2 separate regions of the Homo sapiens genome follow, and region 2 is linked to region 1. The links come from fine-mapping of genetic effects on gene expression. Tissue or cell type: whole blood. Region 1 holds a variant in brackets; the other region holds the start of a gene. All regions are shown on one strand. Distances are from middle to middle.

Region 1 (10,420 bases):
ATAAAGCTGAAAAGCATGTGCAGACTATATTGTCACTCTTGATGCTGTCCAAAGAAACTAGTATGGAAAGCACATGCTGAGAGATTTCCTTCTTTGTTCTTTCTCATTTTAAGAAAGTGCCTTTGGGGATAGATCAGATCCCTGGTGTGAGTCTTGTTAGGTAAAGTTTCTCTTTACGAAAATGAACCAGTATCAGATAAACACCAAACACTTGAAGAAATGTTATTTTTCTAAAATTAATCTCGTTTTTTGTGCTCTCCCAAATCTACTAGAGTTTTTCCAGAGGAAGTTTTTTTTTTCTACTCTTATGTTCCTGTTGTATAATTTTTCAAATTATAATAACTGTTTTGACATGTTGGTATGTCATTGTGTGTGTCTGAGACTTTGAGGAGCTGTGTGATAAATTGCTTAGCTGGTGATAGCGGCGTTAAAAAAATTTGGTTAATACTTTATTGTGGTTAGATTTGCTGTTCTTTTTTTGAGGGGTGGAGGAGGTGATCTCAGGAACGCCTACCATAGTTATTTGAGAATGTGTTAAAAAAAAGAGAATGTGTATATATAATTTTCTGTGCAGTAAGGTTTGGCAGATACTCCTTTTGGAAATGATATTTTCTGAAGGCTTTTTGTTTGTGATTTTTTGGAGGTAAATATCATACATTCCTAATATGATAGGAAAAATCAGAGTAAGAAGAAAAAAATCTAGATTTTTTGAAATTTTAAATGGGAATAGAGTACTTCAACTGTGAAGCTTTACATAAAACTCAGTGACTTTTCATTATTTTAGGTTTCAGCCCCATACTTCATTTTGCTGTGGATTGTATTCATAATTATTTTCCTCATGGCTTTTTTAGTGAGTCCTTTTAAATCTATAAGAAATGTGCAAAGATCAGATGGGAAAAACAGATAGATCTTTATCCCCTGTAGGAATTGTGCAAGCTGCAACACTTCAAGATATTGCCAATAAAAATTAGATTGTGAGTCATACATATCAAAATGAATTCTCTATGCACATTTGTTTATGAAAGGTTTAATTTTTCATTAGGGGAGTACCCATAAATGTCATTTTTAAGAATGTGGAGGGTATTTTGTCATCTTTAGGAACTTAGAAGCAGGAGGGTGTGATGGCCAGATGATCTTGGTAGTTAATAAGCTGACAGCTTCATGAAACTCCTCTTAAAGTAATTTAAAAAAAAATATGTGTTTTTTTGGAGTAAAACTCAAACCAAGTTATAGTGCCATTTTAATTTACAGGAAGAAGAGTGGGAGAGAAGAAGTCCATCAGCATTTTAGTGGAGTAAATAATGAAATTAAATGGGAAGAGAAACCATAATTATAAAAGTTACTATGAGTGTGTCAGTGAATTCTATTGTTATTTTCTGCCTCTTTATTTTCAAGAAATAGCTACTTAATTTTGATCCTTACGCTGTAATTTGTCTGCTTTTATTTCAGATAGAGTCAAGTACATCTGATAGTTTATTCATGGATTTGATTTGAATCTCTATAACTTGCTTTTGTCAAGTGCCACATTTAGATGGCTTTTGTTTTATGTCATTATTTTTATCAACAGTATTTTAAAAACTCTACAGTATAGTTTATAAAATACTACGTATAGTTTCTAAGTATTTCATATGATTGTTTTGAAATACCTCCTTCTTTTCATCCACCGTTTTCTCCTGGGCGATCCCATTGTCTTTTTCTTCAAAGAGTTTCTTGTAATCCCTGTTGATTGCGGTAGTGCTTAGTGGCGAGTCCATAGCTGATTAACCTTGGGTGTCTCCTGGTGAACTCCATCAGCATGCTGCTCCAGGGTTCTTGCTGAGGCTTTTGAGTTTAGTGTAATTTGTACCCTTTTTTGCTGGTAACCAGGGATAAGAAAATAAAATGGCCAATGGTTGTAGCGGGAACTGGGAAAAAGTATCCAAGTCTCAGAAAAACTGGGTGTTTATGATGAGATGTAGCCTTTCAAAACAACAACCAAAAACGGATTCATTACTTCATAGAATTGATTGTGGTGTTTTCTGAAGTGTTTGACTCTGGCATGAAGCATCTTGCTTTTTTAATGTTTGAATAATAATATCTTACTTATATAGTACTTTGCAGTTCATAATATATTGCATTATCTCTTTTGATCTTTCCAACAGTTCTTTGAGGTAGGAAAGGCAAGTAATAACTAAATCCTTTTTATAGATAGAGAAAGTGAGCCCAGAAAGGGTACGTGACTATTGCAAGGTCATACAAATAAAAGTGGCAGGGACTTGAGCCTAGGTCTTGTGTAGTCCTCCTTAAAGGTCCTACAGCAGACCTGGAGTCCTCTAGGGTGCCCAGTTCACAGATTTCTACTTATGTTGTTGCTGATACTTTCCCTTTTGGAAAAGCTCTATGCTAGGGTATTTTTGGATATTCTAGGGCATTTTGCAAGCTTCCTTGCAAAAAGTTTGGAGTTTGTTAGTTGGAATCATACACATTAATTTTTGTAAGTATCATTTTGCTTGAGAAAATTTCAGAGAATCTGAGAAGTAAGCAGAAAAATAAACAGTACCTGTAATCCCAACACTCAGAGATATCATGGTTAACATCTGGGTATTTATCCACTTAAGACTTTCTCTCTGTGAGCATATGTATATGTATATTCATCATAAAAAGATACAACACTGTTTTTTATTTATAATCTGCTATTTTCATGTCTATCCAGGTTAGTAAATACAGGTCTATATGATCATTTGAAACCTTACATTGTGTTTTATTAAACTAGTCCCTGTCAGATTATTCTACTTTTTTTTTTTTTTTTTTTTTTGAGACGGAGTCTTCCTCTGTTGCCCAGGCAGTAGTGCAGTGGCGCGATCTCGGCGCACTGCAAGCTCCGCCTCCCGGGTTAACACCATTCTCCTGCCTCAGCCTTCGGTGTAGCTGGGACTACAGGTGCCCGCCACTACGCCCCGCTAATTTTTTTGTACGTTTTTAGTAGAGACGGCGTTTCACCGTGTTGGTCAGGATGGTCTCGATCTCCTGACCTTGTGATTTGCCCGTCTCGGCCTCCCAAAGTGCTGAGATTACAGGCGTGAGCCACCACCGCGCCAGGCCCAGATTATTCTCCTTTTTTTGCAGTGTGTTTGCAGACATGTACCAAAGTTTGCAGATGTTTTATTTTAACTAAATATATTGATATGACAGATCTTTTTTGTGCTTTAGAAAGCAATGCAGGACCGGATGCCATGGCTCACACCTGTAATACCAGCACCTTGGGAGGCTGAGGTGGGCGGATCACGAGGTCAGGAGTTGAAGACCAGCCTGACCAAGATAGTGAAACCCCGTCTCTACTAAAAATACAAAAAATTAGCTGGGCGTGGTGGTGGGCGCCTGTAATCTCAGCTACTCAGGAGGCTGAGGCAGGAGAATCGCTTGAACCTGGGAGGCAGAGGTTGCAGCGAGATTGCGCCACCGGACTCCAGCCTGGGCTACAGTGTGAGATTCCGTCTCAAACAAAAAAAAAAAAAAAAAAAAAGAAAGCAATACAAATGTTTATTTTATTTTTGTAGAGTCAGGGGTCTCACTGTGTTGCCCAGGCTGGTCTCAAATTCCTGGCCTCAAACAGTGCTGCCTCGGTTTCCCAAAGTGTTGGGATTACAGGTGTGAGACACTGTGCCTCTGTGCTCGGTTTTTACAGGTGTGAGGTACTGTGCCACTGCACCCACTCTACAAAATTAGCTAAAATGTTGTCAGTGAAATAAATTAGTCATTCTTGGTTTGTTCATTGTCATACCTTTATTGTTTATGTTTCTGTAATATGTGAGATAAGATTATTAAATGATGGCAGATACAGGTTTTACAAAATGTAAGCAAACATTACTTCAGCATCAGAATGTTTGATAAAGTATGAAATCGATTATGAAGTAGTATTTTATAATCTATTCATACTATTCTATGAATAGTAGAATTTCAAGTAGGCAAGTATGTTTGATTTTGGAAATTATATCACAGTGACCACATATTGCAAGTTTTTGTACCTTATTTAGATGCTTATCAGTTTTTTTTGTTTTGCTGGGATTACAGGTGTGAGCCACCACGCCCAGCTGATGCTTATCAGTTTTTAACTGGCATTTTAAAACTATATTGAACATTGCCAGACGTGGTAATCCCAGCACTTTGGGAGCCAAGGTGGACAGATCACGAGGTCAGGAGTTCGAGACCAGCCTGACCAACATGGTGAAACCCTATCTCTACTAAAAATACAAAAATTAGCCGGGCGTGGTGGTGCGCACCTGTAATCTCAGCTACTCAGGAGGCTGAGGCAGGAGAATTGCTTGAACCTGGGAGGCGGAGGTTACAGAGAGCTGAGACCGTGCCACTGTACTCCAGGCTGGGCGACAGAGTGAGACTCCGTCTCAAAAACAAACAAACAAAAAATCCCCCAAAAAACAAACACTATACTGAACATTAATATAGAGAAAATGGAAATAAGACTTTACCATATTTTTAATCTCAAAACAAAGTGTTGCCATTTAAATTGGGAGGTAACATAGTTTCAAGGATCCACAATCTCTGCCTCCGGGGTTCAGGCAATTCTCCTGCCTCAGCCTCCCGAGTAGCTGGGATTACAGGCATGCGCCACTGCGCCCAGCTAA[T/C]TTTTGTATTTTTAGTAGAGACAGGGTTTCACCATGTTGGCCAGGTTGGTCTCTATCTCTTGACCTCGTAATCTGCCCGCCTTGGCCTCCCAAAGTTCTGGGATTGTAGGCGTGAGCCACCGTGCCTGGCCCAGGATCTGGTTTTAGAAAGATAACATAGGCAATGAAAGCATTTTTATTTTTAGAAAAAACCTTTATGAGTTAAACCAATTAATAAATGCATATGTGAATTAAGAATGCTATTTGTGCAACATCTGAAAAGTAGTGCATGTAGAAGGAACTTGAAATTGATCGTACTCTAAATTTGATTCGTTCGACTTTGGTCTTCACCTAAATCTGTATTTATGTAACGTTTTATCATTAGGATTTCTTTGAAATAGGCAGTAGAGACAATTTTAAAGTACTTAGTTGTCTTTAACCATCAATTTCAGAAGTAGTATTAATTGCCACTGCACTTTTTGCTAGATGTTTATGACTATATTTCCCCTTCCATGTTAAAAATTGTGCAACTCCTGTTACTTTTGATTCCCTCTACTCTTGGTTTCAGTAGTGTCACATGAAAAGAAAATTCCCTAGAACCCTTCCTTCAGAGTTTTCTGGTAAGTCTTCATTCTTAGCTATGAACTTCTAAAATTCGTCAAAATGAAGAAACCACCTTTTTATTTTTCAGCTTTTCTTTAGATCAAGCAAACAAAACAAACATAAATCCTTTGAATATTAACTAATGATGGAGATATCAGTAACTCTCATAGGACTGTTGTAAACGTTCCTATTTTTGAAAACTTAATCTCTTTTTTACCTTTTTTGCTATTCACTGCTTTCAGTTTACCCGCTTTGGTTGCCGGGTTAATTTCACCAAAACACTCCTTTCATTCTGTCACTCCTATCTATAAAAACTTTGAATGGCTTTCTATCGAAAACTGGATAAAGACTTAGTTCTCAGTCTAGTATTCAAGATTTTCTATTGTCTGGCCCCATTCCACTTTGTGTGTGTGTTTTGTCTCTTCAGCTGTATAGCAAAAGCCCTTAACTTAAAGCCAGAGCTGTTAGTTTGCGTCTTTTTGTTGGCTGGTGTTCTGTTTGTACACCCCCCATTCTCCCATCCCTACCCTGTGGACACAATAGGTGTTTTTAATATACATGTGTCAGATGAACAAATTATGTTTAAGATTTGTTTCTGTCAGAGACTGGGGCCTGATACTCTTGTCTATAAGACAATCTAAATTGAAAATATTTTTAGGGTCATATCTTCGCTCTTTTTTCTTGCTGCTGCTTAGATGAACTTGAATAACATTAAATCCAGAATAATTTATCAAGGGCTGTTTTAGATTTACCTTTTACATTATTTTAAGTTATAGAGATAATAAGTGACTACACTTCTCATTGTAATGATCTAACAGTAAATAGGGTAAAAATGGAAAGACCTCATCATCTTCATTCTTAGAGGGAATCATTTTGGTGTATATCTGTGTATTCTTATTTGGGTGGGCAGGGGGAGGTGACAGCTTTATTGAGATAAAATTAACATATCCCATTACAGTTCACCTCGTTAAAGTGCACAGTCAGGTAGTTTTTGGTATATTCACAAAGTTGTGTAACCATTAACCACAATCAGTTCTAGAATATTTTTTCACCTCGAAAAGCAACCCTACATCCTTTTAGCATCATCCCCTTCCCAAACCTTACCTCACTCTTAGCCCTAGGCGACTGATAATCTATTTTGAGTCTCTGTAGACTTGCCTATTTTGGGCATTTAATATAAATGGAATAAAAATATGTCACTTTTTGTGTCTGGTCTTGTATTCATTTTTTTCTCTGCATGGGCATTTAAATGTGTATGTCTGTATAATATTTTTAATTTATTGTGTGTGTGTATGTCTAGATGAGAACAAAACTAGGCACATAGAAGGAACTTAAGTGAATGTACATGTACATAAATATCTTTTCTAAAACTGTGAGACCATACCATATGTAGCATCCTACAGTTTGCTTTTTTTTACAATAGATAGTGAAGATCTTTCCATGACATGTCCAGACAATGAGATGGTCTCATTCTTTTTAACAGTGTGTAATATTTCCTATGTATGTTTATAGAGATTTACCTCTTGAATTTATCAGTGTATATGGTTAAAAGTTCTTAACAACTTGTTTTGATGGTTTTGCTATACACTACTGGTTTTTTTAAAAAAATAATTGCCACATTTAATGTAACCTCTGTAGTATTAATGCTGGAGTTTCACTTAACAATAGGAATGAAAACATCACAGGTAAGGGTTGTATAGCTTGAGGAGAAATGGAATGCAGGGTCTTTATGCAGTTCTGGCAGTGCTCAGCCAAAGCAATTCATTTTGTATTTGGGTTTCTGAATGTGAGCAAGCCTGTTTTTAAAAAAGCTCATGGCATAGTGCTTAAAATAGAACTTAACATGCTATCTTGTGCTTTATGGTGAATTTTAAGACTTTTTCTTGCAGTCATGCAAGTCTAATCTTAAAGATTGGAAAGATTTCAGAGTAAATATTTTTTCTCATATGTTAAAATCATCATTCTGGTCTATGGGCTTCTGTAAGTTACCCAAGAAGGGGACTGAAGAGGCACAGAACTGGCTCAGAAACTGGCTTATAGTAGATTCTCAGTAATTGTTATTTATTAAAGAATTATTTATCACATTCTGTTATTTATTATATTTTTGGGTATCTGCTGTGTATGAGGTACCAGGTTATTGGTGATTTTAATATATTATCACATATGTGTGTATATTTATTTAAATATTTCTGTTATAGCGGAATGTTTACTAAAAATTATCTTTTTAAAAATTATACAAGTAATGCATCAGTTCTTACAGAGGTTTTCAAAGTCTATTTCTCAGGCCTCTGGTGGTTCCCCGAAGTTTTTCTGAGGGTTCTCCAGGTCAAAATGATTTTCCTAATAATAGGCATTATTTACGTGCTGACATTTGCAAAATCAGTGGTGGGTAAAACTGCCAGCACCTTGGCACAAATTAAGGCATTGGTACTAAATTGTACTAGTAGTTGTGTTCTTCATCACTGTGCACTTGGAATTAAAAAAAAAAATGCCAGTTAAACTTTATGTCCTTGATGAAGCAATAAAACTTACTAATTTTATTGTATCTCAATCCTTGAGTACATTTAAAAATATATTTTGTATGATGAAATGAAAAGTACCTGTAAAACACTTTTATTGAATATCAAATCTGATGGTTAACTCAAGGAAAAGAACTTGTGCAGTTGAGTTGTGAGCTTTTTAAATGGAATACCATTTTTACTTGAAAAAATGGCTGGCAAAGTATGGTTATACAGACTAGGGTATTTGGCATACATTTTCATGAAAATAAACAAAGTGTGCCTGTCACTACAGGGAAAACAACTGACAATATTTGTTACTAATGATAAAATTTAAGCTTTCAAATGAAAATAGAACTTTGGAAGACATGTATTTGCCACTGTGAGCTTGACAGTTTCCCAATACTTGACTTTTTTGATAAGATCAGTGTGATATTAATGAATGTGTTATGTTGAAGTTGCATAGTGAAATATGTCAACATTTGGAAGAACTGCATAACTCAGTGAACTAATATTTTCCAAATAACCAATGCATGATATTACAAAATCATGCCTGGATAAAAAGATCCATTGGAAATGGAAGATAGACCAATGAATTTCAGTTTATCAGAGTGGGAAATATTCATTGATACGGTTTCAGATTCCTGCGTTGCAGCAGCCTTTAAGAACCTGCCATTTGTTGTGTTTTGGTGAAGGATCAAAGAATATCGAAAGTTATCTGAAAAGGCTAGAGCATTTTAATAAAAATACTCTATTTTTTCCCAACTCTATAGAGCTTCATAAGGCTAGATTTCCTTTATATTCTTCATCCAAAACAATCTAATACACAGATTGAATGGAAAAGTAGATGTGAGAATCAAGATGTCTTTATTAAGCTAGATGTTAAAGAGATTTGCAAAAATGTAAAACCATGATAGTCTTCTAATTTTTATTAAAAATATTTTTTAAATATGAGATTTATGTTAACAAGTAATGGATTAATTAATTAATTTGTTTTTTGAGATGGGCTTTGCCATGTCGCCCAGGCTGGTCTCGAAGTCGGGGGCTCCAGTGATCGCCTGCCTCGGCCTCCCAAAGTGTTAGGATTACGGCGTGAGACACCATGCCCAGCTATTATTTTTTTTTAAATGACAAATCTTTTAAAGTTTTCTGCTTTAACTGCAAATACAGTAAATATTGATAGATTTAATCGACATAAAGTTTTTTTGCGGGGGGGATGGTCCTCCACTTTCAAGAGTCCCAAGAGCAAAAACTTTGAAAACTTGATCTTTTTTAAAATTTAAAATTTACAGTACAGCAGTGCCTAATTTAAAATGGGACGATCCCTTTCACCTTCCCACTCATGGTATTTTTTATAACTTAAAAGGAAAAATAAGGCTGGGGGCAGTGGCTCACACCTGTAATTCCAGTGCTTTGGGGGAGACCTAGGCAGGCAGAGTGCTTAAGCTCAGGGGTTCCAGACCAGCCTGGACAACATGGCAAAACCACATCTCTACCAAAAATACAAAAAATTAGCTGGGCATGTTGATGCGCACCTGTGGTTCCAGCTGCTTGGGAGGCTGAAGTGGTAGGATTTTTTGATCCTGGGAGACAGAGGTAGCAGTGAACTGAGATCCACTGCACTCCAACTGGGTGACAGAGTGAGACCCTGTCTCGAGAAAAAAAAAAAAAAAGAAAAAATTTATTTCTAGTGATCTCTTACAAGGCAGTTTGCTAAGCAGAGTTATTTAATTAAATCCTGCATCTCTGTAAGTAATGCTAAACGGTAGTAGCTTGCATTGCACTGAACGAATGTGCTTGAAGTACTTTTTTTTTTTTTTTTTTTTTGGAGACAGGGTCTCCCTCTCTTGCCCAGGCTGGAGTGCAGTGGTATGATCATGGCTCACTGCAGCTTCGAACTCCTGGGCTCAAATGATCCTTCCACCTCAGCCTCCTGAGTAGCTAGGACTTCAGGTGCTTGCCACCATGCTCAGCTGACTAAAAGCTTTTTTTTTTTTTTTTTTTTTTTTTTTTGGAGATAGGGTCTTGCTGTGTTGCCCAGGCTGCTCTCAGACTCATGTGATCCTCATGCCTCAGCCTCCTAAAAGTGTTGGAATTCAAGGTGTTGAGCCACTGCACCTGGCTTGAAGTACTTGTAATCAGTAATGGTGTGGGAAATATATAACTTAATTTTTTCAAGGTTATGTTTTTTCTTTTTTCTTTTTTTTGAGACAGAGTCTCGCTCTGTTGCCCAGGTTGGAGTGCAGTGACATGATCTCGGCTCACCACAACCTCCGCCTCCTGGATTCAAGCAATTCTTCTGCTTCAGCCTCCCGAGTAGGATGCGCACCACTGTGCCCAGCTAATATTTGTGTTTTTAGTAGAGATGGGCTTTCACCATGTTGGCCAGGCTGGTCTTGAACTGCTGACCTCAGATCATCCACCTGCCTCAGCCTCCCAAAGTGCTGGGATTACAGGTGTGAGCCACCATGCCTGGCCTGATTGCTTTTTCTGTAGTAAAATATAAGAATCATATGAATAAATGAAAAATTCCCTAACTTAATATTAGCCAAGAACTTCCTCTCCAGCAGAGCTTAGCTCTTACCAAATATATATGATTGATTTGCATTCTACCTATTTTGTTTTTTTCCTTTCCCTTTTGTGGGATAAACTTGAAACAGGACCTAGAAATTGTAAGACTCTGAATGCTTTTCAGTTTCTTTCTGCATTTCTTTAGAG
Region 2 (5,000 bases), 140 kb after region 1:
GTGGCTCACGCCTGTAATCCCAGCACTTTGGGAGGGTGAGACAGGAGTATCGCTTGGGCCCAGGAGTTCGAGACCAGCCTGGACAATATAGTAAGACCTCATGTCTACAAAATATTTACAAATGTTTTGTGTGTGGTGGTGCATGCCTGTAGTCCCAGCTACTCAGGAGACAGAGGTGGGAGAATCCCTTGAGTCTGGGTGGTGAAGGTTGAAATGAGCGGAGATCATGCCATTGCACAGAGCAAGACTCTGTCTCAAATAAATAAATTCCATCTAGCCACTTGATTACCACAAATGAGTTTTGCCAACTTTTTTTTTTTTTTTTTTTGAGAGAGTTTTGCTCTTGTTGCCCAGGCTAGAGTGCAATGGCACAATTTCAGCTCACTGCAGCCTCCACCTCCCAGGTTCAAGTGATTCTCCTGCCTCAGCCTCCCAAGAAGCTGGGATTATAGGCATGTGCCACCATGACCGGCTTTTTTTTTTTTTTTTTTTTTTTTGAGACAGAGTCTCGCTCTTGTTGCCCAGGCTGGAGTGTAGTGGCTCAATCTCGGTTCACTGCAACCTCCGCCTCCTGGGTTCAAGTGATTCTCCTGCCTCAGCCTCCTGAGTAGCTGGAATTACAGGTGCCTGCCAGCACACCAGGCTAATTTTTGTACTTTTAGTAGAGATAGGGTTTCACCATGTTGGCCAGGCTGGTCTCAAACTCCTGACCTCAGGTGATCTGCCTCCCTCGGTCTCTCAAAGTGCTGGGATTACAGGCATGAGCCAACTGCACCTGGCCAGTTTTGTATTTTTAGTAGAGATGGGGTTTCACCATGTTGGCCAGGCTGGTTTCAAACCCCTGACATCAGGTGATCCACATGCCTCGGCCTCCCAAAGTGCTGGGATTACAGACGTGAGCCACTGCACTCAGCCCAAGTTTTGCCAACTCTTATATCCATTGCCAACCTATAGTTTCGATTCAACCATGATTTGACAAATGAAGCTGCGCGCCAATGAGTGCGATTCTTTTTCCAATGAATGAATGGTCATTAAACCTGATGTGATCTACTGTTAAACTATTTCTCACCCTTTTACCAAACACATTCATTAAATTGAAACTTCTTTCAAATCTCCATCTCCACTGATCACAATAGGGCTGTCTTTTTAACTTTTTGTACAGATAGATGTAGGGATTGAAACACTGTTTGATCCTACATTATTTAATAATGGCTGGCTTTAACATCCTGCTTGCAAAATTCCTAAAACTATGGCTCTTGCTAGCTGTAGTGAGCCAGCCCCAGCCCACATGTGGGTGACACCTGGCTATGCCTGGCCCAGCGTCCAGCATGTAACTGACATTATTCCCCTCTGTCCGTGGCTCGCAGCAGCCTGGTAAGGTGGCATATCCTACTTCATAGGTGAGAAAACCGAGGCTCAAGGGTGATTAGGCTTCAGGTCTGCTGCCTCCAAAGCCCCTGTTCTTCCCACTTCGCTAGGCCACCCCATCCAGTCTTTCACACACTCATTAAACACTGGTGGCCACTTTCTTGGTGTCAGATACTGGGATACAAAGACAATTTACCTTCTTCCCTTCTGGGAGCTTTGGCTATCCCAGGAGGGAGGGTCAGTGAGCCTCAAAACCAGGCATGGGTGGGAGGATGCTGAGGCTGAAGGCTGGACTCCAGCCCTCAGTCCACCATTCATTATCACCGTTAGACCTGGACAAGAGGGCACTGCCCCGGGCCCTGTGTTTTAAAAGTCCCTGCTCCTGCCCTGGCCCTCCTCTTGGGATAAAGAGTTCCAGGGTTCTACGTGGAGGTGCCCACCTGGAGCTCACAATTCCTGCCCCTCTGGACCAAGCTCAGAATACCCAGAACTCTGGAACTCCTGCCCAGGTAACCCTAACCCCACTTGGCTGGGCTCTCAGGACCCTACCCTGGATCACAAGGGCCCAAGGTGCCTGTAATTTTATCTCCAGTGGTCAGCGAAGGACTCACTGAGAAGGCGATGTTTCAGCAAAGACCTGGAGGAATGGGATGCCTCGGGGGACTCTCAGGCCCATTGACGTCCACTGTTGGGACAGGTTTCAGGGTCACAACCTCAAGCAGCAGCTGGCTGTGCCTCCTGGGCCTCTCCTGCCAGGTGCAGGGGGGCTGCAGCCATGAGGCTCCCCTGGCTCAGGTCTGGGCCCCCAAGTTCTTTGTAACGCAACTCTTTGCTCTTGGCCTTCTGGAAATAGAACCCTGCACGGTGTGAAACTGAAGCCTGGTCGAGGGCTGGCAGAGTAGGGGACCCAGGGAATAAAGTGCTCACGCCCAAACCAGGCTTGATGCCAGGGCAAAGGGGGCTCAGTGGACCCTCCATTTTACAGATAGGGAGACTGAGGCGCAGAGAGTAGACGCATCCTGCCAGAGAGTGCAGACCTGGCCTCTGTTCTGTCTCAATTACAAAGCCCCTCCTCTTTCCCTGCTGCCAGCCATACCTTTAATGGTCTCTCTCTCCATCCCCAGTCCCCTCAGTCCCCAAATCCAACTGGTCAGGTTCTGGAGGGAAACCTAGTAAGTTCTGTCTTAGCGCCCTGGCTTGTAAGTCACACTGACAAGTATAAAGCCACATGTCTATTTTGGAGGCTTACCCCCAACCCCCACCCCGCCAACAGCAGCCTCCCCGCAGCTCTTGGCCCTGGGTGGGCCCAGCTCTCCCACAGCCACCTTCCTTCCCACCAAGAAAACATGAGCAGAGCAAATTGCCTAATGAGACCCATATTTTGCTGAGTTGCTAATCAAAGAACAAACCCAACCTACCATTAATTTGGTCTTGGGAAAGAAACTTGGCCTGCAGCAGAGAAAGGAAAACAGTCAGGGGAGGGCTCCACCTGAGGTTCACGCCCCCAGCCCTGGCCAGGCCGACACAGACCCTCACACTCACCATTCTGGGGCCTCGGCTGCTACCCGTGGGCTTGCTGCTCCCAGAACCGCGTTCAGTTCCCTTTCCTCCAGCCTCAAGTCTAAAGTCTGCCAAGCTGGGTGGAGGCCCGGGTAATAAATGCTCGGCTGCCATGGAGACTGGGCCCGACGCCACCAGGGTCAGATTCCAGCTTCCTGAGCACAGCTCATGACCCGCCACCTGGGCAGGTTGGATTTTTGAGGAAATGGGGCTGCAGAAGGCTCTCCCTGGGCTCAGAGTCTCTGCCTCCAGAAGCCGAAGCAAAGGGACAAATGCCAGTGTTTCTTCCCGGGAGCCCTGGACTCCAGGAAGGGGTCTTCTCTCTCTCTCCTGGGACTCGGCGGGGATGCCATCAGGCCCCTACTAGAGTTGGACACTTTACACCCCGGGTCGTATTGAAGGCTCCTCACACACCATCTTGTAGGAGGAAGGGAACCCTTCCAAGACGGCCTAACTCAGAGATGGGCACCGGGGCTCGCAGGCTTGGGGCTCGGTATTGCAGGGATACAAGCTTCGGTGCTCTCAGGCTGGGATTCAGTCCTCCCCGTCTGCTGACTTGCTGAGTGACTGGCGAATCATTCTACCTCAGTCTGTGCCTCAGTTTCCTCACCAGCTGAATTACAGGGCAGCTGGCAAAATCAAGTGGCCAGCGCACAGCCGGTTCCCATCCTGTGCCAGTTCAGTTCCCACCTTCTGAGGACTTTAAGGGTGGTGGAGGGGCCTGAGCCGGGTCTCCAGCCCCACCACAGGCTCCTCGGGGGCTTGGAGTGAGGCCTCTTAGTGCCGGTTACCCTGGCCAGGAAGGCTCCCCTTTTCTTCCTTCCCTTCCTCTCTCCACCCTCAGCCCCACCCCTTCCGCAGAAGCTGCTGACGCTCCCAAGTCTTCAGGAGTTCGTGCTGCTCCCCTCCCCCACATAGGAGGAAATGGGGGCAGGGTGTGAGGCCTCCCCAGCTTCTTCCCCTTGAGATCCCATTTCCCTGTTTGGGGCGTGAGGCTTTTGTCCACAGCTGAGTCTATGAGGCTCTACAAGTAGGTGTGGCTGCACAGGTGTGCCCTACACAAAGGCCCCCAGCCCAGGTGCGAGTGGTTGCTGGCCAGGGGCTGCACTGCCAATAGGAAGGGGGGCATTGTGCCACTTTGCACACAGGCGCATAGACGGGAGGCGCTGCCTGTGCCCCACTCTCCCCTCCCCGCTCCTTTCCTGACCGCCTCTGTGTGGAAAGTGTGCTTTTCTCCCAAATCACATCCCCAGAATCGCTTTACACCTGTTTCTAGACCCAGAGAATTTTAGCTGGGGACTCCGACTCCTCCCTGTCAGAGTTTGAGGCTCCCCCTCCCAAACCCCATGGCAGGGATAAGAGGAGGGAAGGCTGCCTCTGTGCAGAGGATGGAGAGAAGGACATCAAGGAAAGTCACTTGGGACTCTGGAAGCCTGAAGGCGGCCAGGCCAACATGCTCCCTCTGAATCCCCTTGCCTGTGGGAAGGGGCTCCAGAAGAGATGAGGTGCCTCCTTGGAGTTAGGCCAGTGTGTGCTGGGGTGCCCCGGCCAACTCCCTCCTTATGTGTGTAGGTGTCTCCGGGGGTGACGCACAGATGGAAAACACCAGCGTGGGGCAATGGCTGCGTGAGGGTTCACGATACAGCAACTCACCATGCTGTAGGGCGCACCGTGTGTGCTACACCTCAGCACGAAAGGGAGAAAAGACAAAAAACACCTCTAACACCACTTGGGGCTGTGACTGTATTTACTTCATTCTTGAATCCCGCGTCCCCGTGGCTGGGGGCTGACACATCCCTGGGCACCACTGTGACTTCCTGTGGGTCCCTTCCCTTCTGTCCCTGACTCTGTAGACCCCCCACAGGAAGGGTCCTAGGTAGGGGGAGGTTCCTCCTCCCTTGAAACCCTGGGCCACTCTGTCAAGGCAAAGCCTCTGGGCCCAGCACCTTGTAAAGGCTTTGATGAGAGGAGCTCTGGCTTTTGCTCAGGGCCTTTGGCACCCCACCCTCCAGCCCCCAGGAATGCAGGCGCTCAAAGCCTGTGGCTAGGCTGCCCGAAGCGCGTGCCGCAGT

The links. PIP is the estimated chance that this variant, and not a neighbour inherited with it, causes the effect.
Region 2: CALML4 starts here. The variant in region 1 is fine-mapped to the expression of CALML4 in whole blood (TOPMed, PIP 0.98).

Annotation. Positions count from the first base shown.
Region 1 is chr15:68,056,229-68,066,648 of GRCh38, forward strand. All of the region lies in intron 1 of PIAS1 (protein inhibitor of activated STAT 1), which reads left to right. Among named protein-coding and RNA genes, the nearest start is that of PIAS1, 7.1 kb to the left of the region's middle. The variant T/C (reference allele first, on the strand shown) is at 4,623.
Region 2 is chr15:68,202,335-68,207,334 of GRCh38, forward strand. CALML4 (calmodulin like 4) reads right to left here and starts at 2,998. Exons shown (of 5, transcript NM_033429.3): 1 at 2,911-2,998; 2 at 2,787-2,817. The coding sequence starts at 2,913. It overlaps CLN6 (CLN6 transmembrane ER protein), which reads right to left. Exons shown (of 7, transcript NM_017882.3): 7 at 4,658-5,000. RefSeq lists an enhancer at 3,697-3,991.